Homo sapiens: one gene and its partners. Changing the gene in region 3 together with the main gene of any one other region gives a genetic interaction. Each region holds a gene or a part of one and is shown on either strand. Other genes may lie near its edges. The genes, in order: RIT1, KRAS, LSM5, ATG10 and EGFR.

The links.
Region 1: changes in LSM5 (region 3) and RIT1 together harm fitness more than expected from each alone (negative genetic interaction), as found in Homo sapiens cells (one large-scale study listed by BioGRID).
Region 2: changes in LSM5 (region 3) and KRAS are lethal when combined (synthetic lethality), as found in Homo sapiens cells (3 studies listed by BioGRID, with this or other methods).
Region 4: of LSM5 (region 3) and ATG10, changing one enhances a phenotype caused by changing the other (phenotypic enhancement), as found in Homo sapiens cells (one large-scale study listed by BioGRID).
Region 5: changes in LSM5 (region 3) and EGFR together harm fitness more than expected from each alone (negative genetic interaction), as found in Homo sapiens cells (one large-scale study listed by BioGRID).

The regions. Positions count from the first base shown.
Region 1 is NC_000001.11:155,897,308-155,901,349, forward strand, and holds the end of RIT1 (GTP-binding protein Rit1), read right to left. Parts: intron 3,312-4,042; coding exon 3,081-3,311; 3' UTR 501-3,080; downstream 1-500.
Region 2 is NC_000012.12:25,209,420-25,212,940, reverse strand, and holds part of KRAS (GTPase KRas), read left to right. Parts: intron 1-762; coding exon of another isoform or gene 763-763; intron 764-3,029; coding exon 3,030-3,146; 3' UTR 3,147-3,521. UniProt on the Homo sapiens protein: Ras proteins bind GDP/GTP and possess intrinsic GTPase activity. Plays an important role in the regulation of cell proliferation.
Region 3 is NC_000007.14:32,487,573-32,491,801, reverse strand, and holds the start of LSM5 (U6 snRNA-associated Sm-like protein LSm5), read left to right. Parts: upstream 1-1,421; 5' UTR 1,422-1,436; coding exon 1,437-1,482; exon of another isoform or gene 1,483-1,777; intron 1,778-2,457; coding exon 2,458-2,553; intron 2,554-3,149; coding exon 3,150-3,177; intron 3,178-4,044; coding exon 4,045-4,117; intron 4,118-4,229. UniProt on the Homo sapiens protein: Plays a role in pre-mRNA splicing as component of the U4/U6-U5 tri-snRNP complex that is involved in spliceosome assembly, and as component of the precatalytic spliceosome (spliceosome B complex).
Region 4 is NC_000005.10:81,975,021-81,978,541, forward strand, and holds part of ATG10 (ubiquitin-like-conjugating enzyme ATG10), read left to right. Parts: intron 1-1,172; exon of another isoform or gene 1,173-1,307; intron 1,308-3,308; exon of another isoform or gene 3,309-3,521. UniProt on the Homo sapiens protein: E2-like enzyme involved in autophagy. Acts as an E2-like enzyme that catalyzes the conjugation of ATG12 to ATG5. ATG12 conjugation to ATG5 is required for autophagy. Likely serves as an ATG5-recognition molecule. Not involved in ATG12 conjugation to ATG3.
Region 5 is NC_000007.14:55,200,513-55,204,033, forward strand, and holds part of EGFR (epidermal growth factor receptor isoform a precursor), read left to right. Parts: intron 1-675; coding exon 676-843; intron 844-1,222; coding exon 1,223-1,270; intron 1,271-2,004; coding exon 2,005-2,113; coding exon of another isoform or gene 2,114-2,253; exon of another isoform or gene 2,254-2,564; intron 2,565-3,521. UniProt on the Homo sapiens protein: Receptor tyrosine kinase binding ligands of the EGF family and activating several signaling cascades to convert extracellular cues into appropriate cellular responses.

The DNA of each region.
Region 1 (4,042 bases), on a different chromosome or scaffold from region 3:
ATACAAAAAATTAGCCAGGTGTGGTGGCGGGCGCCTGTAGTCCCAGCTACTTGGGAGGTTGAGGCAGGAGAATGGCGTGAACCCAGGAGGCGGAGCTTGCCGTGAGCCGAAATCGCGCCACTGTACTCCAGCCTGGGCGACAGAGCGAGATTCTGTCTCAAAAAAAAAAAAAAAAAAAAAATCATTCTTTCACTTTTCATTTAGTGTATTTACTTATAACAACTTTAAGTAACCCTTGATCAGGTAGCAAATGTGCTGTCATTTTCCATATGTGTTTTTCCTGTCTCCTCCCAAGAGGTAATCTCTTCAAATGAAGGGGGATTCCATGGCATGCTCCCTAGCACTTGACATGGGTGTCTTGTTCATGGTGGGCACTCAAATTTTTTGAATTCATATTTTCCAGAATATCACATCTCATGGTTATGTTTTTCTGAAAACAACTCTTTTGCAATGATTCCAAAAACTCTACCCACTGATAGGGAAGCAAAGGAAAGCCCAAGTTGTTTAAAAGTTTTGTATTATGTCATACAAACTGTCTTCACATACAAGTGCATTAAAAAAATTATCCCCCCCTCCTCCTCCCCAAACATCACAGTAGACCAATTCTTGCTAATATATGACAAAGTTAAAACATATGTCCCCTCTGAATTCTAAACAGCTAATTCTAGACACTAACATCTGGATCTTATAATTTACCGGTCTGGTATGGACATGAACAGTTCCAGTGCCTTTCAACTTATCCCTGAATTTTTCTCTTCTCAAAGTTCTAGGCAGTAATTTTAATGCCCTCAAATTAGATAAAGCTGATTACTTAGAGCTTATAAATTAGCTACACTTTATGACACTAAGAATAGAGCTATGACTTATGCATATCATACCTGTCAAGCTACCTAGCACCACGAATAGAACTAATATTAATGGATGGACTAATACAAGGATCTAATATATGACAGTGATAGTCTTAAAAACACCGATTTGTTATTTTCCTTATATATAATCCAAATTCCTTTCTATCCTTCTGGCAATGTTTCTACTGCCTGACTACCTTAAATAACTATATAGTGTCAATTTCTTGCTTGGGCCAGGTGGTGGCTCATGCCTGTAATCCCAGCATATTGGGAGGATTGCTTGAGCCTAGGAGTTCGAGATCAGCCTGGGCAACATAGTGAAACCTCATCTCTATTTAAAAAAAAAAAAAAAAAAAAAAAAAAATATATATATATATATATATATATATCTCTTAATGTTAATAACAATTCCCTAGGTCACTAGTAATAAGAAGCTATGGGCTTTAAACTTAAAAGGTGCTAAACCAGTTTAAATGTAAAACATTCTCATAATAGAATTGCACTGTATTTCTTTTCTACTTTGATGCTTTTCCAAAGTGCTATAGTTCCTGTGAGATTTGTGTCCTGCACAGAATCAAATGCTAGGTCTTTCACTTTTGGATGGCTGAGTACCATAAAACATGATTTATTTGGTAACAAAAATGTTTCCAGGAGTTTAAAAAGGGACCACTACTCAGAGCTAAAAAAGTTCTAACAGTCACTTTTTAAAAAAGCTAGTTTATCATTTGTTTATAAAGAAAAACACAACTCTGTCCTACTTCCTCTAATAAAAATGGAAAATATTAAGATGAGCTGTGTGCTTATAAAGAGGTGCTACACAAGTCATCTTACGTTTCTAGTCAACACAAACATTGCTTCAGTGACACTTAATATTCAATACATGATGCATTACTCTTAGCATTTTTGCATTTACTCTCCGCATATAACAAGGTCAGATATCAAAACAGTCCTGATCTTAGACAACTCACTACCAATATTTAAAGCTGTTTCCTCCTAGGACTACAGTTCCTAAACTATGCACAGGGAGCAAAGTGGTATTCCCTTAGGATAAACTTGGTCAAGGCTCAGATAACCCTGAGATGAACTTAGCAAAGTCCTTGTAAAGAAATCTTCAGATGGGAAACTCCACCTATGTGAATTTTAAAGCTTTAAGACTGACCCATTCAACAGAAATAGCAGATTTTCTCAGAGCACTGAGTCTAGTGATTGTCCACGTCAAGGAGGCACACACACAATTTTACCCACACCCCTGATGTCTCTTCTGTATGGAAAATGCAATCAGTGATGAAGGGCCGAAAAAACATCTTGCCAGCTGTAGCTCTTTTACAGAGCACAAAGTGGGAGGAAGCAATGAATATAAATGTGTTGGTGTGTGCGTCTGTGGGGAAAAAATAAACCTGTACAAGGCAATGGCTGATCCAACTATGAATTTTGATTAAACACGTTTAGTAATACAGTTATGATTCCCAAAATGTCTACCTTTGAAGGTAAAAAAAAAAAGAAAACCCTGAAATGAAGAGTAAAATAAGGTTCCCAGGAGAAACCTTCATCACATTTTATGCTTCTGGCTGTTCTCACTTATCCCGGTGAATTTGGGCCAAATGTGTACTTCTTAGAAAAGCGAAGCTTGTACTGAGAATACTGTTCTGAACCTACCTTTTTAAGTCCCTGCAAACATATAGCCCAACTTTCCCAAATCTCACCACTCCATAGTCTGCAACAGGTGTCAGCCTCACAGGTATCTGCTGAAATTTGGCACTGATCTCATTAGCCCCAATTTCCCTACATGATTTTTGTTCTGTCTCTAGGAAGCATAGTGTGAATAGAAGAGACTGAGGTCTTTCTCTGGGATAGTCCCAGGAAATTGAAATTAAAGGATAATGTGGAGTGCAGAGCCAAAAACTTCCCTTGTGAACTTAGTCAAACACACATGGTATACATATTCTCCTGGGTATAAACAAATTTACATTAATTAATAGCGCAACAGAACCCAAAACATTGGTAGAACAAATTCTAATGTGACAATTTAAAAGCAGACAGTGCTCCACTGGGTTAATAAATCATACTTAACTAAGAGACAATACTTTAAATACCACATCATTAAAAACTCCTAGTAGGCATGTCCCTCTTATCAGTTAAGTGAAAGAGCAAGCACCATACTCAGTACTGCAGGTTACTGGACTGCTTTGATACAGCACTGCAGTTCACAGATAAACACTTCACATCTTCTCTTCAAGTTACTGAATCTTTCTTCTTCCGGAATGGTGATTTTAGCCTCTTCCATACACTGTTTTTGGGCTTAGATTTTTTCTCCATGGCCAGTACTGCCTCCTTTTCTTTCCTACGTATCTCCCGTACAAGGGCATGGAAAACATCATCAATATAGTAGCGGTATGCAGCAGATGTCTCAAAAAAGGGACAGCTGAATTCTCGGGCCAAGGCCAATCCTTCTTCCTTGGTGACCTTTAAGGGCAAAATGTGAGAAAAGATAACAGTGAAAAACAATTAAATTGTCCAAAAACCTGAATGCACCACCACCTTAACACAAAGAAAGCTTCTCAATTCTGGAGGTGTTCAAGCATACAGCACTAATTTTTGTAATTTTAGGCTAGATTACTTCTAAGGTTTCTTATTCTGCCTTCAAATGATATGATTCTATTTCTAGTCTACTTTTTTTTTTGAGACAGAGTTGCGTTCTTGTTGCCCAGATTGGAGTGCAATGGCATGATTGTGGCTCACAACCTCGGCCTCCCGGGTTCAAGTGATTCTCCTGCCTCAGCCTCCTGAGTAGCTGAGATTACAGGCATGCGCCACCACACCTGGCTAATTTTGTATTTTTAGTAGAGACGGGGTTTCTCCATGTTGGTCAGGCTGGTTGTAAACTCCTGACCTCAGGTGATCTGCCCACCTCGGCCTCCCAAAGTACTGGGATTACAGGCGTCGGCCACTGTGCCCGGTCTCTAGTCTATTTTTAAGATACTTTTTGGAACAGGGAATAGTTTTAGATATCAAATACACAATCTTAATTTTCCCCATACTTTTTATTTTAAGAAAGATAAATAGGCTGGGCTTGGTGGCTCACACCTGTAATTCCAGAACTTTGGGAGGCTAAGGTAGGAGGATTGCTTGAGCCCAGGAACTTGAGACCAAGCTGGGCAATATGGTGAGACCCTACTTTTACAAAATTTTTAAAA
Region 2 (3,521 bases), on a different chromosome or scaffold from region 3:
GGCAACAGAAAGAGACTCCATCTCTTAAAAAAAGTAAAAATAAAAAAATTTTGGCACAGGGACAGTGGCTCACACTTATAATGCCAGAACTTTAGGAGTCCACAGCGCGAGGACTGCTTGAGGCCAGGAGTTTAAGACCAGACTGGGCAACGTAATGAGACCCCACCTTTAGGAAATAAATACATAAATAAAAATTTGACAATGATAAACATATATAAATTAGCTTTTCTTAGTCCTGAAAAAGATAATGTTATGTGTATGTGTGAGAATGATTAGTTCTCATATGAGAAAAAAAGAATTCATTGCTCTGTGTAGGTTGTGACATTTCCTTCACGATTGAAATTAATTAATTTTTTTTTATTACTTATTTATTTTTAAAATAGAGACAGGTTCTTGCTGTGTTGCCCAGGCTGGTCTCAAACTCCTGGCCTCAAGCAGTTCTCCTGCCTCAGCCTCCCAAATTGCTGTGACTGTAGGTGTGAGCCACTGCACTGGGCCAAAATTACTTAATTTTAACAAGATGATGTAGAGAGGAGAGTTCATTGCAACATAAGCCTAGAATCTTTGTCAGAATCTTAGGAAGTAATGTTTTCAAATTCTGTGTTTTCACCATAAAATGTGTCTTCTCTGTGTCCATCACATGGTTTTTCATTGTTTTCTGCTTTACCATTTTAGTACCATTGGCATTTTTCTTCATTGTAAAAGTAGTAGAAATGGAGTAGATTACATAAGGATGTGATCAGAGGGAATTTATTCATTCAGGGTAAGGGAGTTAGATCCTCTTTTAAGATTCTATCACATTCTAAGGGTTTATGATTCTAAACTGTCAAGTAAATTGTCAAGTGCTGGCAAGCTACAGAATAATTTTTATTGTATCATTGGAAATTTTCCCCTCTATATGTGTTAAAGAGTTTAGCCTGAAGGGATACATACACATACATATATGTAATCAAACCTTGATGGTATTGTATTGCTGATAAATTATTTCTTACCACTTTTCCTTTCTCCTGTGGGAGAAACAAAAGCATATGTTTGTGTAGTATCAGTAATGATATTAGAGAGTGGGAAACATCAGTGAGTGCAGTTTGGGGACTTTATTGGAGACTTTCACTAGTGCTCAAATAAATAATGCTGGTTTTTATCCTACTGTTTGCTTAATGTGGACTAGCCTCTTATTCCCATTCTATGTTTACCTCTCTTAAAATATTGGTCACGCTTTCTTGAATTATAGATCTATTAGGAAAATTCATGAACTGTAGCTAATTTTCATTGTTCATGCTCCAGATTTATTTTGAAATATCGTTAATCTTAGTAGTACAGTAAAGGAGAAATACCACTTAACATTTTTTGTTTTTTTTTCTTTGAGACAGAGTCATGCTCTGTCACCCAGTCTGGAGTGCAGTGGTGCTATCTCGGCTCACTGCAATGCACTTCGCCTCTCCGGGTTCAGCAATTCTCCTGCCTCAGCCTCCTGAGTAGCTGGGATTACAGGCACCTGCTACCACACCCAGCTAATTTTTGTATTTTTAGTAGAGACAGGGTTTCACCATGTTGGCCAGGCTGGTCTGAAACTCCTCACCTCAAGTGATCCACCCGTCTTGGCCTCCCAAAGTGCTGGGATTACAGGCTTGAGCCACCGCACCCCGCCCACTTAACATTTTAAATTAATTTCAAGATAATATCACTTGAATATTTTTACACATATAATTTTTTTAATACATTTATTTACACAGTTTATAATATCCTACAAAGTGATTACAATGAGTAAAAACCCAGTTTTCATTGTTCCTAAAGTGGCTTGATTTATACAACTTAATGTGTTGGGTATTTGTTTCTAAGACTCCCTCTGCTGTCTAGGTTTGGAAGTATTGTGAGGTTAACAGATTTTCTTTTTATAGTTACTACTCAGTTGAACAGGCTTTAAAATACAGAGAGAATCATATTTTTTCTTCATTTTTTGCTTTTATTTATATTTTTCTTTTAATTGGAGACATGACAAGAATTGACTTGTGTATGGATCTTGCATAATTTAAGTACTGCAGGTTTAAAATCTACTACCAGTTTGAGAGTGCCATTTTTCACACTGTAGATTATTAGGTTGAAAAGTATTATGGCTTAAAATCGCTTTTAGCCATTAAATTTAAATAACCTTGCTTTAATCATAAATAGATGGTGGTCACAATGACTAACTGTTAAACTCTTTGAAGACAGGATATTTGGCTTTATATGGCAAGCTTTTGAATACAACAGAAATTAAAACTTTATGGGATAGAAAGAATCTCCTCCAAATTGGTAAACTATAAGACCTTTCAAATGATTTAGCTAATTTCTCCACAAATCTGAGGTATTAGTGTTTTTTTTAAAGTGGTATTCTCCTGTGTTGGGGTCACTTTAAACCTTTTTCTTAATGATAAATATATGAATTGAAACTAATCCCTTAATATATATCATTTGAAAACTGAAATAATATGTTTAGATACTGTTTACTTGTTGATAAATTATTGGAATAGGATGTTCGAATACTGTTTACTTCTTGGTAAATTTTTAAATCCAATGGATTTTACGTAAGTATAGAACTGGAGCTCAAATACTGTTACTGTGTGTGAAGATATATGAACATAGTTTACAGTTGCATGGCTTATATCTAAAGTCCAGAAACATAAGGACAATTAAGTGTACACACACACACATGCATTTGGATTTTGATGACTTAGGTTTGCCAATGTGGAAAAAATAGTAGCAAATTAAGTTCTCCTGTGAAAAAGTCGTTACCTTATTTAAAATTCTGTGCCATTGGTTATCCTTGTCTTTTGTGAAAATTAGTGTTCCTGTTTATAATATTGACAAAACACCTATGCGGATGACATTTAAGAATTCTAAAAGTCCTAATATATGTAATATATATTCAGTTGCCTGAAGAGAAACATAAAGAATCCTTTCTTAATATTTTTTCCATTAATGAAATTTGTTACCTGTACACATGAAGCCATCGTATATATTCACATTTTAATACTTTTTATGTATTTCAGGGTGTTGATGATGCCTTCTATACATTAGTTCGAGAAATTCGAAAACATAAAGAAAAGATGAGCAAAGATGGTAAAAAGAAGAAAAAGAAGTCAAAGACAAAGTGTGTAATTATGTAAATACAATTTGTACTTTTTTCTTAAGGCATACTAGTACAAGTGGTAATTTTTGTACATTACACTAAATTATTAGCATTTGTTTTAGCATTACCTAATTTTTTTCCTGCTCCATGCAGACTGTTAGCTTTTACCTTAAATGCTTATTTTAAAATGACAGTGGAAGTTTTTTTTTCCTCTAAGTGCCAGTATTCCCAGAGTTTTGGTTTTTGAACTAGCAATGCCTGTGAAAAAGAAACTGAATACCTAAGATTTCTGTCTTGGGGCTTTTGGTGCATGCAGTTGATTACTTCTTATTTTTCTTACCAATTGTGAATGTTGGTGTGAAACAAATTAATGAAGCTTTTGAATCATCCCTATTCTGTGTTTTATCTAGTC
Region 3 (4,229 bases):
TCATGTATTAGAAAACAAGGATAAGTAATAACAGCTCATGTTTAAAAGGGCTATGTGCCAGGTCCTATGCTGACCACTTTTCATAGATTATCTCAATTAATCTTCACATTAATCTTATGAGTAGATACTGTTGTCCCCATTTTTTCCAATGGGTATATTGAGACTTAAAAAGTTAAAATAACTTGCCCATTGTCAAATAACTGACCATGGAATTTGAACCAAAGTCATTTAATTCAAAATGAAGAAATTTAATCACGTAAACTACTGCTTCCCATAATTCTCAGCCTTGAGGAACTCAGTCTATGAAGGAATGATGGGTGCTTAATGACCATTTGTTGTATGAATGAATGACGTTCTTTGTGGCCGCTCATGTTTATTGTTTAGCTTTTTTTTTTTTTTTTTTTGAGATGGAGTTTCGCTCTTGTTGTTCAGGCTGGAGTGCAGTTGCATGATCTAGGCTCACTGCAACCGCTGCCTCTCGGGTTCAAGCAGTTCTCCTGCCTCTGCCTCCCGAGTAGCTGGGACTACAGGCGCACGCCACCACGCCCAGCTAATTTTTGTATTTTTAGTAGAGACGGGGTTTCACCCATGTTGGCCAGGCTGGTCTCGAACTCCTGACCTCAGGTGATCCGCCCGCCTCGGCCTTCCAAAGTGCTGGGATTACAGTCGTTACCACTGCGCCTGACCTAGACTGTTCAGGTTTAAGTTCCTAGGATACAAATATAAAACAGACTAGGGCCGATACTTTGCTGTTTTCAACACAGAAGTGGAAAGCATGATTTTACACTTCTGGAATAATTTAGAGTGACATCTGGTGGTTGCCTGTGAGACAAGAATTGTTGAAGAAACTGAATTTAAAAGCCTATAATAAATAAGACTACCAGACATAAAAAGATAAGAACGATGAATTAAAGTAGTAAAAAGTTTAAAAAACATATCTTAAATCCTCACTAAAGAAAAATTTTAAAAAATGCTAGTTGCAGATTTTCAATCCACTGGACTTTAAAAAGAAACAATAGATTCCTTAATGAGTAGTTGTAACGAAAATTGTAACAGTTAATTGATGGCAGGAAATACGAATTGATTTATACTGGTTTGAAGATTCTGGCTTGAGAGGAAATGCAACTTTACGGGGGAAGAAGACTCAAACGTTACAGGAACAATTTATTCACAAGGCAAAATATCTTCAACGTCTCTCCAAAACTTCAAGGGCATTATGGGTATCTGCCGAGATGGTAAAATGTCCAGTGGGCAGGAAATATTTCACCGGATCTCACTTGCCGGGGAAAAAAGCCAGTGAACGCGACCCACGCAGCTGACTAGATCGTGCGCTCGGCCTCAGATTGGTCGAGCCTGTTTGGGCTGCGGAAAAAGCGGAAGCGCGCTTTTCAAAGTCGTCCCACCATCAATGAAGGCAGGCCACTTCCGGCGTAGCCATGGCGGCTAACGCTACTACCAACCCGTCGCAGCTGCTGCCCTTAGGTAATCGCCGTCCTTTGGGGAGCAGGAACAGGGAGCTGACATTCAGGATTGGGGGCCGAGGGGCTGTTCCGAGGCAGGCCCTGGCCGAGTGTGGGGAAATGTATAAGACCAAATGCGGTTCGACTCTGAGCTCCAAGTCTTCGCGACAGCAGGCCGCACCTGCTCTTTAACGTGGTCGGGCTCCTCCAGGCAAGGACTTTGACTTCTCAAACCAGACCTTCACTGGAAAAGGTCCACATTTAGTGAACGCGTCGTCGGCCTACTTTGTTGTGAGCCCGCCTCTGCAGTGTTATAGGTAGTAGGCCTACTTCTCAGCCTGGCGTTTACGATCCCCAGATTAGATAGACCATGTTATGTATGTGGTTGGTTAGTGACACTAACACCCTGGTCCGGAATGAGCCTTAAATGAGGAATCTGGAAACCAGCTCTGTTTGTTATTTATTCATTCAATAAGTAGTAACTGAGTATCTATACACTAGATACCGTGCCTGGGCATTTTTCAATGATAAACCATAGCCATTGCCTTCAAATAGCACACAAGCCAGTGGAGGAGAGAACACTGGACAAGTAGACATCATGCCACATAATGCTAGGCTAGCTAAAGAGATGTTCAAGCTACCGTCAGAGCACAGAGGATAGACAGAGTTGGGAAAGGGAAGCAGTGACCGGAGAGTTTCCGGTGAATATAATTATACCTATCTCCTCTTATATTTTTGTAGTTGGTGAAGAGTGATTGAACTAGTGGTCGTGGCCGTGATTGAAAAGTTTTCATTCCTTCATGCCACAGACTCTTTTGGAAGGCTCATTATGTGCCAGATGCTGTGCTTGAACTGAGATTTGTATTATAAGACCTAAAGTTATTGAATGAATGTTTTTCCTGGTTTTTCTTTCACTATATGCAAGTAAGAGTGCCAGTAGGCACTCAAATATTTGTTGAAATAATGAATGGTAAAATAATATTTTTTCCCTCCTCAGAGCTTGTGGACAAATGTATAGGATCAAGAATTCACATCGTGATGAAGAGTGATAAGGAAATTGTTGGTACTCTTCTAGGATTTGATGACTTTGTCAGTATCCTTTTAAAAGGTGGTGGTGGTATAGGTTTTTCTTAAGTAATAACATAAGAACTATAGACAATCAGTATATTTGTGATTATTATAATAAAAATCAGTTCATTCTCAGGGAACTTATGATAATGTTTTAAGAGGTATGTATTGAAAGACGGTAAAGTTCCTATCAACAACAAGCATTTTGAATTTGAGCCATTGTATTAAACATTGTAATTAAAACTGAACAGGCGAGCCCAGTGGCTCACGCCTATAATCCCAGCGCTTTGGGAGGGCGAGGTGGGTGGATCGCTTGAGCCCAGGAGTTTGAGACCAGCCTGGGCAAGATGATGAAACCCTGTCTCCACAAAAATTACAAAAATTAGCTGGGCATGGTGATGTACACCTGTGGGTCCAGCTAATCTCCGGGGCTAAGGCAGGAGGATCCTTTAAGCCTAAAAGGTGGAGGCTGCAGTGAGGTGTGATTGTACCACTGCACTTAAGCCTGGATGACAGAGCGAGACTTTGTCTCAAAACAAAAACAAAAACAAAAAACAAAAGCTGAACAAAGGCAGAAGCTAGAGTAAATTCTGTATTTATTTTCTTAACACCAAATTTCAGATATGGTACTGGAAGATGTCACTGAGTTGTGAGTAGTGTTAAAGAATTGGGGGGAATCTCTTCTTAATTAAAGACAGTTTTACTACTTTTGAGTAAAATTATTTATGAGAAAACATTACCTCTTGGTGGAATAACGTTAAAGATAGACGTTTTATCTGTTTGCTTGTAAAATTGGATCAGAGTGTTATTACCTTAATGTAATTATTAGTAAACGCCTAGAATATTAGTGGAGACACAGTTTTAAGGTAGAAGATAACAAAAAGAGCCAGGAATTTTAGGGTTCAGGTCAAATAAAGGAACTGATAGTAAGAGCATTTAGGCTGGACATGGTGGCTCATTCCTGTAATCCTAGCACTTTGGAAGGCCAAAGGAGGAGGATTAAGCCTGGGAGTTTGAGACCAGCCTGGGCAACAAAGGGAGACCCCTGTCTCTATAAAAAATTTAAAAATTAGCTGGTTATAGTAGGGGGCAGCTGTAGTCCTAGCTGCTCTGGAGGGTGAGGATCCCTTGAGCCCAGGAGTTCTAGGCTGCAGTGAACTATGATTGTACCACTGTACTCAGCCTGGGCAACAGAGCAAGACCCTGTCTCTTAAAAAAAAAAAAACCCAAAAAACATTTCATTTCATATTTGATTTCCTGGGCAAGCTTTCACTTCTTTTTATGAAGCTCTGTCTGATAGACGTGGGTCTTAGTGTCAGTGAGTTCATTCTGCTGCTTTTAATGAAGGTTACATTACCTAGTGGATAACCTTTGTATCTGAAAATTGTGGATATAATTGCTCAACCTCAGTGTAATTTGTATACAAGGATAACCTTTTTAGGGAGGGTAAGTATTTCCAAAATGTTGGCTTTGATTTTCACTGTTTGTCCTGACTGTATTTTATCTATTCATTTAGTGAAATCACACCAGAAGGAAGAAGGATTACTAAATTAGATCAGATTTTGCTAAATGGAAATAATATAACAATGGTAAGACACATTGAAACTGTTTTATTTTGATGGGAGCCCATTTTTGGGGAGCAGTGATTACAGAACTAACCTTAATGTTGCTTGCTTGACTAAATGATCATGGCCCAGTGGT
Region 4 (3,521 bases), on a different chromosome or scaffold from region 3:
AATTACTACACTTAACAGCTGTGTTACCTTGGACAAGTTACCCTCTCTGTCTCAATTTCCTTATCTATAAAATAAAGAAAATCCTAGTAATTTACCTCAAAAAGTTGCTCTGAGGATTTGTTACTAGTTCTTAATACATAGTAATATATGCAATTTTAATTATTTTAATCCATACTAATTCTTTAAACAGTGGTTGTACAATTTATCACTGTTTTTTGTTATCCATTATTCTCTGATGTTCTTTTCAATGTGAATCTTTACTTAAAAATTTGATTACTTTGAGAAGAATGTGTATTCTGAAAAATAAAAAAATATTTGGTTACAAACTATTGAAGGCAAAGACTGTATTATACTTCTTTTTGAAAGTCTCTTAAACCAAGGCTGGGTACAGTGGTTCATGCCTGTGATTCAGCACTTTGGGAGGCTGAGGCAGGCAAATTGCCTGAGCTGAGGAGTTTGAGACCAGCCTTGGCAACATTGCAAAACCCTGTCTCTACAAAAAATACAAAAAATTAGCTGTGCATGGTGGTGCACACATGTGGTCCCAGCTACTCAAGAGGCTGAGGCGGGAGGATTGCTTGAGCCTGGCAGGTGGAGGTTGCAGTCAGCTGAGATGGTATCACTGCCCTCCAACCTGGGTGACATAGTGAGACCCCCCTCTCAAAAAAAAAAAGTGTCTCAGACCTCTCAGGATGATTTGGGGGCTCAGTGTAATATTTTTTTCTTCCCATCTTACTATCTAGTTTTCTTTTTCTTTTTTGTTTTTTATTGTACTTTTGTAGCTTAGAGTTTTAAATTTAAACTCAATTTTGTTCCAAAAGTATTTGAGGTAGCTTAAACTATATAATATATAATAACATACAAAATAAAGAGAATCAAGATCATAAAAATATGAAGCTTGAATAGAAAGATGTGATTAGGGTGAGTTATACTGAAAATATACTGTGAATGTTGTAGAGTTATTTATTTATTTATTTATTTTATCTTTTTTTTTTTTTGAGATGGAGTCTCACTCTGTCGCCCAGGCTGGAGTGCAGTGGCGTGATCTCGGCTCACTGCAGGCTCCGGCCCCCGAGTTCACGCCATTCTCCTGCCTCAGCCTCCCGAGTAGCTGGGAGTACAGGCGCCCGCCACCTTGCCCGGCTAATTTTTTTTTTTTTTTGTATTTTTAGTAGAGACGGGGTTTCACCGTGTTAGCCAAGATGGTCTCGATCTCCTGACCTCGTGATCCGCCCGCCTCGGCCTCCCAAAGTGCTGGGATTACAGGCGTGAGCCACTGCGCCCGGCCTGTTGTACAGTTATTAAAGGTAGGCCACAAAGTTCCAAGCTTCATGGTGGTCAAAGGAAAGAAGGAAACATATTTATTGCCCAGCAAAAACAGCTTCCTGTGTTAAAATAATTAATTGGGAGGCCATTGCCTGAGGAAGCTCCAGTGCCCTGGGTTCCTACATAAACAGACTTACACCAAACTCAGTGTAAATGGTTGTATTCTAGGAAAATGAAACTTTAGCTTAACCAATCAGAAACCATCAACTAACCTCTAACCACTGACTTTTACTGGAATGATCCAAGTAAGGCTACTCCACTTTGACCAATCACAGATTTTCTTGGCCTTGCTTCTGCCGTTCACTCTTCAAAAGCCTTCTAACTGTGTCCTTTTGGTGCAGCCCCATATTGCTTGCATTCTGGAGCTGACCAATTCATTAATATGCCTAGTGTTCCATTATTGGAACGCTAAGCTTGTGGGAGTTATTTATATCCTGCTCATGGTCATCGCCAAGGTCTGATTTTTCACAAAAAAAATTTGCAACCTCCAGCATAAATGGGTTAACCATTGTCTGCTTAAATAAACATTTTCTTGTTTTTGTTTTTTGAGACAGTATCTTGTTGTGTCGCCCAGGCTGGAGGGCAGTAGTGCAGTTATGGCTCACTGCAGCCTCAATTTCCTGGGCTCCAGCTATCCTCCCACCTCAGCCTCCCAAGTAGCTGGGACTACAGGCATGCACCACTATGCCAGGCTAATTTTTGTATTTTTTTGTAGAGGCGGGATCTCACCATTTGCCCAGGCTGGTCTTGAATTCCTGAGCTCAGGCAATCCACCTGCCTTGTCCTCCCGAAGTGCTAGGATTACTTTGCCTGACCTCAAATAAATCCTTTAAAATTTTAATGTGCCTTGGTTTATCTTTTAGCACCTAGTAAATATTTAGTGAGTGAAATGGAGATTGTGATCACAGATTTTAAAGGATACGCTGAGGCCCTAGAGTTAAATTCTCTAGACTTTGTTAATTCCTTACCTACTTCCCAGTATTTCTCAAAGGGAGCTCTACTGGCATTTTTACAGACAACTCTTCACTGTGTGGGATTGTCCTGTACATTGTAGGATGTTTATTTTACCTGGTCCCTCAGCACTAAATGGCAATGGCAAACTCTAACTTCTTTTTAACAATCCAATATGATCCCATTTATTTCCAAGCAGCCCCTTGAAGAGCGGGTTCCCCATAAAGTTGGGAACCATTAGACCTTATTTGCCCATACTCTTCTCCACCCGAGCTATGCTCCATCCACTGACATTTGTTTTATTTTTAAACCTTGCATTCTTTTCAGACCCTGTCTTTGCAGGAGCTCCTCAATCTTTTTGGAGTGACTTTGTCTCCACCTGGTTGGCCCTTACTCAAATTTCAAAATTCATTTCTTCAAGAATTGAATTCATGTGTTCAGAACTCCAAGTTTTGGAGTCTTCCCCAGTTTTGCCAGGAAGTTTGACATTCTTTTCTAGGAGGACACTCACAGCAAGCACTAGGGTATTGTAGGTACTGAGTGAATGAATGAAAAACTTGTGGAAATAGAAGGCACATTAGTCTCATCTCTGAACAAAGACTTTTGCAAGAAGAAAAATTTAAAGGGAATGTGCCTTTCATTACAAAAATGTCCAACCATTTCCTTTTTTTATTTTCCAAAATAAAAATATGGCACTTGGTAGTATATTTTAAAGACACTTTGCTCTGTAATCTGTATTCAGACTGGCACTGATTCTGTAGCTTCTGATATTGTGTTGGTCTTTTTTTTTGAGGCGGAGTCTTGCTCTGTCGCCCAAGCTGGAGTGCAATGGCATGATCTCAGCTCATTGCAACCTCTGCCTCCCAGGTTCATGCAATTCTCCTGCCTCAGCCTCCCAAGTAGCTGGGATTACATGTGCCCGCCACCACGCCCAGCTAATTTTAGTATTTTTAGTAGAGATGGGGTTTCACCATGTTGGTCAGGCTGGTCTCAAACTCCTGACCTCAGGTGATCCATCCACCTTGGCCTCCCAAAATGCTGGGATTACAGGCATGAGCCACTGCTCCTTTCTGTCTCTTCTTATTTTTTGGATACTTTTGGCCAAGGATACCCCATTATCTCCTTATTTCCTAATTCTGGATACTTGGCATATGTGCTGACTAGAGTTTGTTGTACTAGTCCTACTACCCACTGTTCAAAGGCAGCAAGAGAGTTTGAGCTGTGGATCAGCTCAAATTGTCATC
Region 5 (3,521 bases), about 23 Mb from region 3:
CAGATCGCATTATTAAACCCTCCAGCGCATTAGAGCAAGCCTCAGTAAGGCGCAGGCCACATCGTGAACTAAGCAGCATCCGTGAGTGGGGCCCACCCAACTCCATCTCCCCCTCCCCGTCTGAACTCTCCTCTGGTGCTCGTCCTCACTGTCCGGCTAGCCAAAGCCTCAGCTGGGTCTAAGAGAGAAGCATGGTCTATTGGGCTTTGGTGTCAGGCAGACGTGGCTTCACACCCCTGACTCTCCACTTCTTCGCATCACCCAGGCAGCCGATCCACCTATCTCCTTCCATAACACAGGAATACCAAAACCAAGCTCACAGGATTGTCTCAAAGATTCAATAAAATATGTTGCAAAATACGCTCCCTAACACCTCACAGCAAGGTGCACACTCGATGAATGCTGCAGCTTCTTCCCTTTCTGTTTCCTCAGAAGCTATTTGAATCTCATGTAGGGGCTTTCAAGCATCAAAGGATGGTTCATGTTTTATTTTAAGGCACCCACATCATGTCATGAGGGGAGGCAGCTATAATTTAGAGAACCAAGGGGGATTTCATTATAACAAAATTGGCAAACACACAGGCACCTGCTGGCAATAGACCCCTGCTCCTATAGCCAAGAAGTGGAATAGCATCTCTACGGGCCATTCTAATAGCCTCAAAATCTCTGCACCAGGGGGATGAAAGAATGCATTTGCCAAGTCCTACAGACTCCAACTTCTACCGTGCCCTGATGGATGAAGAAGACATGGACGACGTGGTGGATGCCGACGAGTACCTCATCCCACAGCAGGGCTTCTTCAGCAGCCCCTCCACGTCACGGACTCCCCTCCTGAGCTCTCTGGTATGAAATCTCTGTCTCTCTCTCTCTCTCAAGCTGTGTCTACTCATTTGAACAAATTGAATTTTAGGGAAAATAACCATCTAGTGAAACTCACATGGATATGAAGTCAATTTTAACCAAATGGTAAAATCAAAATCAAAATAAATTAAGTGTATTAATTATTTTGTTGCATTGCAACAACTTGATTGTAAGCCTTTTAGGTCCACTATGGAATGTAATTAAATCAAAACTAAACCTAGTTGCTCTAAAACTAACGATTAAGACAAAAATTAAACACCTTCACAATATACCCTCCATGAGGCACACCACCTGCATTCAGGAAAAGTGGATGAGATGTGGTACAAGCATTCCATGGGCAACTTCTCTGTTTCTTTTTCAGAGTGCAACCAGCAACAATTCCACCGTGGCTTGCATTGATAGAAATGGGGTATGTATGAACACCTTATAAGCCAGAATTTACAGCTCTCCACTATGGCTCTATTTTACATGGAAAATGCCTTAACCTAAATAATTTTAACCCAGATAATCTTGAGTTTTCTTCCTGTGTGGGTTTTTCCCTGCACGGCTGTCACGCCTCACAGTGCCGTTCAAAGCGTGACTCCTGGACCAGTAGTAGCATCGCCTGGCCTTGTTAGAAACGCCATTTTTCAGGCCACTGCCCCAGTTTGACCAAATCAGGACCTCTGGGGGTGGCACCCAGTAGTCTATGTTTGAGCCACTTTCCAGGTGATGCTGATGTCTGTTGAAGTGTGAGGCCGTGGTCTAGACCGCACTGTGCCATGCAGAAACCACTAGCCACATGTGGCTACTTCAACTTAAATGTTAATGAGTTAAAATGAAATAAAATATAAAATTCAGTTTCTCACACATGTGAAGTGTCCAGTAGCCACACGTGGCTAGTGGTGACCGTATTGAAGAGCACCGCTCATAGCACACCTCCCTCACTGCGGAAAGTTCTGCTGTACAGCACCCAGCACAGCCCTGCTGCCCACCCTGCAGCCTGTGGCCCAGTAGCACCAGCACCCACCAGGGTGCAGACTCTCAGGCCTGCCCAACCTACTAATCAGAACCAGCATCTCAAGGAGATCTCGGGTGATTTTTGCAAACACTGAAGTTGGGGCAGCCCTGACCGGAGTAACCTTCCCTCATTTCCTCCTGCAGCTGCAAAGCTGTCCCATCAAGGAAGACAGCTTCTTGCAGCGATACAGCTCAGACCCCACAGGCGCCTTGACTGAGGACAGCATAGACGACACCTTCCTCCCAGTGCCTGGTGAGTGGCTTGTCTGGAAACAGTCCTGCTCCTCAACCTCCTCGACCCACTCAGCAGCAGCCAGTCTCCAGTGTCCAAGCCAGGTGCTCCCTCCAGCATCTCCAGAGGGGGAAACAGTGGCAGATTTGCAGACACAGTGAAGGGCGTAAGGAGCAGATAAACACATGACCGAGCCTGCACAAGCTCTTTGTTGTGTCTGGTTGTTTGCTGTACCTCTGTTGTAAGAATGAATCTGCAAAATTTCTAGCTTATGAAGCAAATCACGGACATACACATCTGTGTGTGTGAGTGTTCATGATGTGTGTACATCTGTGTATGTGTGTGTGTGTATGTGTGTGTTTGTGACAGATTTGATCCCTGTTCTCTCTGCTGGCTCTATCTTGACCTGTGAAACGTATATTTAACTAATTAAATATTAGTTAATATTAATAAATTTTAAGCTTTATCCAGATACTCATAACCTGCTAACACACACACATATACACACACATACACATACACACATATACACACACCACACACATACACAGACACCACACACATACCATACACAGACACATACACATGCACACACATATACACACACACCTCAAATACATACACACCACACACACATACATGTATACACACATACACACACCACACATACACCACAAAAACCCCACACACATACACATATACACACCACACACACCACATACACACACGTATACACACATATATACACACATACACCATGCATACATACACACCACACATACATACAGACACACCACACACACGTACACACAACACACAACACAGACACGTACACACACTACAGACATGTATGCACACATACACACACACCACACATACATACACACAGACACATATACACTACACACACCATTACATACACACGTACACATACACCACACACACCACACATACACACACCACACACACATACGCCACACACACACCACAAAAACCGCACACACATACAAACATATACACACTACACCACACATACACACACACACCACACACCACACACACACATACACACACCACACACACCACACATACACGCACCACACATACACACACGTAGACACACCACACACACCACAGAAACACACATTAACACACCACATACACATATGTATGTGCATATACACACCCACACCCCACACACACATGTATAAAGATTTAGATATATATAAAACATATGTTATATATATGTTGATGTAATATCTAATATCTATATATCTAATATGTAGTTTATTAGCTATCTAATATCTATGTCATATATATCAAAATCTTTATATATAAAAATATGTAGAAATCTTTATACATATGTTATATGTATATAAAGATTTAGATATATAACATATGTAAGTTATATATATGTTAGTGTAATATC